Homo sapiens: one gene and its partner. The protein of the gene in region 1 purifies or fractionates together with the protein of each later gene. This does not show direct contact. Each region holds a gene or a part of one and is shown on either strand. Other genes may lie near its edges.

What was found. Proteins that work in one complex are often made in the same cells at the same time.
Region 2: the proteins of F8A2 (region 1) and CLUH purify together in Homo sapiens (affinity purification with mass spectrometry, with the first as the bait; one large-scale study listed by BioGRID). This does not show direct contact.

What each region holds. Positions count from the first base shown.
Region 1 is NC_000023.11:155,380,934-155,384,301, reverse strand, and holds F8A2 (40-kDa huntingtin-associated protein), read right to left. Parts: upstream 2,208-3,368; 5' UTR 2,188-2,207; coding exon 1,072-2,187; 3' UTR 501-1,071; downstream 1-500. Other genes in the region: H2AB2 (histone H2A-Bbd type 2/3), read right to left, coding at 3,168-3,368.
Region 2 is NC_000017.11:2,694,765-2,698,264, forward strand, and holds part of CLUH (clustered mitochondria protein homolog), read right to left. Parts: coding exon 3,132-3,500; intron 2,179-3,131; coding exon 1,955-2,178; intron 1,775-1,954; coding exon 1,670-1,774; intron 1,496-1,669; coding exon 1,395-1,495; intron 763-1,394; coding exon 610-762; intron 517-609; coding exon 454-516; intron 338-453; coding exon 93-337; intron 1-92. UniProt on the Homo sapiens protein: mRNA-binding protein involved in proper cytoplasmic distribution of mitochondria.

The DNA.
Region 1 (3,368 bases):
TACAAAAATTAGCCCAGCGTGGTGGTGCACGCCTGTAATCCCAGGCACCCTGGAGGTTGAGGTAGGAGAATCGCTTGAACCCAGGAGGCGGAGGTTGCAGTGAGCCGAGATCACGCCACTGCGCTCCTGCCTGGGCGACAGAGTGAGACTCCATCTCGGGGGGGGAAAAAAAAAAAAAAAATCCCTATTACAAATAAAAGCTGTTGTGATCCAGACTGCATATACCTCTGCGAATGGAACCAGAACCGTGAATTCCAATGCAAATCGATGCATCGGCACCAGACCCGCTGCACTGGATGTATCTGCATTGCAGTCACCCGAGTACGGAGCACATCATAGATGATCTCTGCAGGTTCGTTGCCCACATAGGAGGCATAGCGCAAATTTCAAAGGAACGAATACATCCTGGAGCCCAAACAGCTATCTGGTTCTGCTGCTGGCCTCCTGACAAGTAGGTAAGAGAGTCACATTTTATAGACGACGGACACCAAAACCACACATGAGGAGTACAAGAGTAGCTTTATCATGGATTTAGGGCTGTGGTTACAAGGAAGCTGTAAGGAATAAAATGACTCCCATGAAGACGTACCGTGCGGACGAGTGGAAGGAGAAATTTGGCCATTACAAAGACACAGGAATATGTTAAGAAGTGAGGGGCAGGATGAAATCATCTAGGGTAGGTATTTAGAGGGAGGGCGCCGTGCAAAATAAAATCCTCACTATGAAACAAAGGCGGAGGCAGGAGGCTGCGTTGGGTGGAAGCAGCGGAGGAAGGAGACGAAAGGGATTGTCATTTTCATGTCGTGGCTTTTTAGAAGACAGCCATGTCCTCTACTCTGATTCTATCAAAATGTGTTCTCGGGGTGCTGGTAACGTTCAGCCAACGAAATAATTCCTATGGCGGCAGTAGGAATAACAAAACGCAGAAGCGGGAACGATGTCTTTTTATTCCTCCCCAGACGCAAACGTGGATGCATGAGGTTTGGTAACAGGCAAAGTCATCTGGTTAACGTGACTGATGCAAAAAGTCCCGGCCTGGGCAAAAAGAAGTCACTGGGTGAATGGGATGGATCAGACTCCCTGTCCTGAGGGGGAGATGGTTTCTTGCAGAACGAGGTGAAGGAGGTGGTTCTGCTCAGCAGTCAACAGTGGCCACATCTCCACCTGCAGCGACTTGATGGCTTCCGTGTCCTTTTCGTGGGTAGCCATGACCAAAGACTGGAGCAGCAGAAAGAGCTCCTCGGGAAGCTGGCCGCTGCTCTCCTGCCCGTGGCTGTCAAAAGCCTCCCAGGAGTACTTCTCCAGGGTCTGGGCGTGCTCCGGCAGCAGCTTGGCGGGCGGTGGTTGCAGGAGGAGCAGCAGCAGCACGCGGGACACCTCGCAGCGGACCAGCACGTCCGAGAAGGCGCCCAGGGCGGCGGGAGAGGGCGCCGCCGAGCCGGAGTTCGGAGGAAGCAGCGCGGCCGGTAGGGCGGGCGTCGCCCCGGGCCCGGGCTGGGGTGCCGGCGGCGGGGGCGGCGGCAGTGACTGCACCGGGTGGCTGCCGTGCTCCCGCGCCAGGCGCTGCATGCGCGTGAAGACCGCCAGGGCGCCGGTGTAGTCGCGCGCCAGCAGCTGGCAGGAGGCGGCCTCGCCAAGCGCCTGCAGCGCGGCCAGGGGCAGCTGGGGCAGCTGGAGCTGGGCGGCGCGCTGGAAGTGACCGGCGGCGGCGGCCGGCTGGCCCAGGTCGCGCAGGGCGGCGGCCAGCTCGAGGCAGAGGGCGGCGGCGGCGGCCGGCTGGCCCAGCTCGAGGTGCAGACGCACCGCGGCGCCCAGGGCGCTGGCGGCGGCCTGCAGCGGCTCCCCGTAGGCGGCGGGGCAGACCAGGCGCTGGCGCGCGTCGCGCTCCTGCCGCAGGAAGAGGCGGGCGGCCTCGGTGAGGGCCAGCGCCTCCCCGGGCCCGTGGAAGAGCGCCTGCTGGCAGCGCGCCACCGCCAGCTGGCACCAGGCCGCGTAGGGCAGACACTCCTGGGCGCGCAGCTCCCGGCCCAGCTGTCCGAACTGCTCGCCGGCCTCCGCCACGTTCGGCTTCCGCAGGAACCGCTTCTTCAGCTTGTTCGATACCAGCCGGTAGCGGGCCAGGAAGTCCCCGGCCTCGGGTCCCGGGCCGGCGCCGCCGCCGCCCAGGCCTGCAGCCGCTGCCGCCATGCTCGCCGCCCCAAGCACTTCCCGACGCGCCGCCGCAGCTGGCGGGCGGGCCGGGGCGGGGCGACGTGCCCTGCGTCCCCCTCGGCGGGCTGCCGCCGTGCCCGCGCCGGCTCCCCAGCCCGAGCCTGCCCCTTGCCCTGGTGAGGTGCAAAGAGCGGGATCGGAGGCGGGGCCTGGCCGGGCTGTGAGCGGCGTATGCAAATCGAGGGTCTCGGGGATGCGGATCCAAGACCCTGGGAAGGTACGCGGGGCCTGGCGGGGCACCAGCTGCTGCTAGCTCGGCTGCAATGCAAGTGGTCTAGGTTGCTAAAGGCATCCCACAGCCTCTCCATCTGAACATGACCCAAAGGAAACTCGTGACCCTAATTCCATGTCTGCGCATTTCTGGACTGTTGTCCCCCCCCCCCCCCCCCGCCCCGACTACTCAGTCCTCCGTCTTCCGGTCCAGGGCCCCTTGCCAAGCACCGGGTCCACCTCTCCGTCCCCACCCCGGTTGCCTTAGAAGTCCGTCCTGTCGCAACACTGCAGTCATGGTCTTGAGGCCCACCCGCCCCAACGAACACCATCATGCTGAGGACTTTCCCGGGCAGGCCCTGACTTGCTCAGAACCAGCGGGGGTGTCCCCTTCCCACCCAGGGCCACTCCCCTGCACTGTCACCCGGAGAGACGGCTCCTCTGTGCCATCCCTGGCTCCCACCCAACCCCAGACCCCCACCACCTCTCCATCCCTCCAGCTGTGGAGGTCTCACAACCCCCCAACCCATCTCACCGCCCCCCCACCCCCACCCCAAGGCAAAGTGACTGAAGCGGGCAGATGGCTTCCTTGAAACATTTTATTGACAGAATTAATGAAGGCCCAAGACTTTGGGGCCTGGGTTGTGGGGGGAGGGTGTTTAAGGCCGGGGGTTCAGGCCGGGGGATTTGGGGCCGGGTGGGTGGACGAGTGGACCTGTCAGGTCCCAGGGGCCGGGTGTCAGAAGCTAGTCCTCGCCAGGGGCCACTTGAGAGATGGTGGTCGTGTTGAAAAGGGTGCTCAGTAGCCTGTCGTTGTGAACCACCATGTCCAGCAGCAGGGGAGTGATGTTCCGCTCTCCGCTGTTCTGGGCCTCGTTGCCCGCCAGCTCCAGGACCTTGGCCGTCAGGTACTCAATAACCGCAGCGAGGTAGACCGGCGCCGTGCG
Region 2 (3,500 bases), on another chromosome or scaffold:
TGACCACAGGCCTTAGACGCCATCTGGGAGCAGGTGGTGGCCGCCTCATCTGCCCAATCCCACCCACCCCACCGCCCCTGCCCCGCACGCACCACTCGAGGTCGAAGTCAAAGTAGTTCTTGGCCTCCTGGCAGATGTTCTTCCAGAGCTCCTGGGGGGTCATGACAGCCCAGGCTGTGTTATCTGCAGCCCCCGGGGGCCGGTTTTTCCTCCTCTTATTCCGCTTCTTGGAGACCAGCTCGTCGGCGGGCAGGTGGGCCACGGGGTTTGGGTAGGAGCTCAGGAAGCAGTTCAGGAAGTGGCTGATGGCGGCTGAGAGGCCGGAGAGCTCGACTCCCTGCGAGGCAGGTTGGATCCGAGTCATGAGGGCCCTCAGCCCCACCTCAGGCTCTTTCCCGACGCCCCACACCACCCTGGGAGGCCATGGCCAGCCGCAGAGCGGACGGGTGGCACCTGTAAGTACGTCTTGAAGATGTGCTTGGCCGAGCGGGTGATGAGTTCTCCAATGCCGATTTTCTGGAAGGATTCAGAAGGGAGGTCTTGGTCAGGCCCCCGGCCTCCATCCCAGTCCCACAGCTCCCGTTCCGCCCCACCCCGGGCAGCACTCACAAAGACGTGGTCCAGCTGGTGGCGGGCCGGGCTCCGCAGCACCAGCTCCAGCACCTTGCCCAGGTAGCGCATGTTGATGCCCCGCTGGCGCATCACCTCTGCCAGCGTTGCCCCGTCCACGGGCAGGACCGCGTGCTCCATGCAGTCCTTCACCTGCGGGCTGCAGCAGCTCAGGCCCCCACCCAGCTCCTCTGCCTCCACCCAACTGAGTCCTTCTGGGGGAGCACAGCTATCCTGGGAGGCCCTGGAGAAGGACCCCGAAGGCTCCAGCTCCCAGTCAGGATGTCAGAATGTGCCCAGCCTCTGGCAGGAGCGCAGGCCAAGAACCAAGAGCCCGGTGGTGGTACAGGCCCCCTCTAACCATGTGGGAGAAGCAGAGGTGCCCGCTTGGGGGCACTACTTGACCCCCAGCCCCGTGTCCTGAGGCTTGGAGGCCACGGTGTTGGGGGAGCACCCAGCATCCTGGAACCAGACACAGAGCCTGCGGGAGGAGGAGGAGGATGGGCAGCCCCCACTGAGCTCTGGCCCCGTCCCCCAGCCATGCCACCATCCAGGGCTCAGAAGACTGGATTACCAGCTGCCAGCCCACACGGTGGGCTCAGCAGGGCCTGTGCCCTTGACCTCTGGGGGTCAGGCTCCCCATCTGTCAAACGGGGATGCCCACTCAGGGAAAGCTGAAAAAGTCACTCCTGCGAGCCTGTGTTCATGGGCCTCCAAGTCGGAGACAGATGAGGGACCAGCACCCTCCACACAAGCCCCACCCAGCCCCGCAGCCCCTCCCTCACCAAGCCAGGGATCTGGCAGGAGAGCAGGAAGGCAGCCGCGTCCTTCAGCAGCTGCTTCTGGTCCCGAACTTCATCCTGGCAGGACTCAGGGAAACGAACCCCTGGAGGAGGGAGAGCAGAGAGGCTGAGCCAGGCAGTGGCAAGACAAATGCCGCCTGGCGCTGGCGGGGGAAGCGCTCAGATGGGGGACAAACCCACCAGCCCCAAGGGCCCAGGCCCCCCAGCGAAGCTCTGGCCCTGGAGGGCTCCTGCGCTGGCCGGCCCCCACCACCTGCCTGGTGAGAAGATGTCAGGATTGAAGCGAATGTCGAAGGCGGTGCTGCTGATGGAGCCGACCGCCTTGCACGCGTTGCGGATCACCTCCCGGCTCCGAGGGTCTGCTGTGGAGACATGGCTCCATGAGACACGGGTCCCCTCTGCCACCGGTGGAGCTGGGCTGCGCCAAGCCTCGCCCCCTAGCTCCTTGCAGAGATGTCTGCCAGCCTCTCCCAGGTGGGGGTCATAAGCCACCCTGGCAGGGCCAGCCCGGGCTCTCTCCCGGCCATCTGCAGCAGCCCCACCTGTGCCGTCGTCTGCGGCGATGGTCTCTGCCAGCTCCTTCACCTTGGCCAGGCCGCTGGCGCTGCTACCCTCCTCCTCACTTCCCGCCTCCTGTCCTGGAGGATCCTCAGACTTGGACTCCAAGGAGGAAGGACCACCATTTTCCAGGGAGGAGGGGGTCTCCAGCTGGCTGGCGTTCTGCTGCATCAGCTGCAAGGCGGCCAGCTTCATAAAGAGGAGGTACCTGGAGCAGAGGAAACAGGGCAGAGCAGGAGCTGGACATCGGGGAGAGGAGCTCTGCTGGCCCACGGCTCCCGGCAGCTGGGGCTCCACACCCCGCAGGCATAGGGCACCTCCTGGCCGGTGTGCATGAGTCAACGCAGAAAAACCAAGATCTCCCAAGACAGGAAGAAAAAGGCGGCCGGGCGTGGTGGCTCACGCCTGTAATCCCAGCACTTTGAGGACGAGGCAGGCAGATCACTTGAGGTTGGGAGTTCGAGACCAGCCTGACCACCATGGAGAAACCCCGTCTCTACTAAAAATACAAAAAATTAGCTGGGCGTGGTGGTGCACGCCTGTAATACCAGCTATTCGGGAGGCTCAGACAGGAGAATCACTTGAACCCGGGAGGCAGAGGTTGCGGTGAGCCGGGATCGTGCCATTGCACTCCAGCCTAGGCGACAAGAGTGAAACTCCGTCTCAGAAAAAAAAAAAAAAAGGCAGCTGCGTTCTGGAGGGTATGGGAAAAGAGGAGCTCCCCATCCAGGTCAGGGCTCTCAACAGTGACAGGAAGCCACTGGCATTTGAGAGTTACTCATGCTGTGGGACCTCTGACATGGCCATTTCCCCATTTCCTAAGCACTAAACACCAGCGGCGGGGACCCCCGGTGCCCCACCTGCCCGCCCCAGCACGGGGACAGTCACAGCCACCCAGACTTCCAAGTGCTCCTTAAGAGAACAGTGTCCGCCACAGCCACATTACCCGCCTGGCTGCTCGCGAGTCTGCAGCCCGGGTTTCTGCGCTCGGGAGCCTGACAGCAGGGCAGGTGGGGACGGGTCTCCAATGACTGTGGCTAGACGGAGCCCTTCTTCACTCTCCAGCGCTTCTCCCTTCAAGGACCCAACCCCGGATCCACCCAGGGCGCCCGCACTCCCTGCAGCTGGCCCCGGCCCTGGTCCGGCAGGGCCGCCCCTCACCTGTGCTCCACGAAGGCGTCCACCAGCTCCTGGCGCAGGCAGCAGAGCTTGTGCCGGTGGGCGCGGGGGAAGCCGGCGCGGGCGCATTCCTCAGGCAGCTCCTCGCCAGGCACGGGCAGGAAGTTGAGGTCCGGGGGGAAGGTGCGCAGCAGGTCGAGGATGTAGTGGCGCCCGTCGTTGCCAATGATGCCCTTGCACTCGACCGAGGAGCAGAGCTCCACCTCCTCGTCACGGTCGTTGAGCACCTGGTGCCGCAGGATCTTGAGGGGCCGACTCGTGCGCTCCAGCAGCTCCAGGTACCGCGGGTGTGACACCACGGTCTTGCCGAAGTCGATGGAGCCGTAGATGACGCTCTGCTCCTGGTCCCGC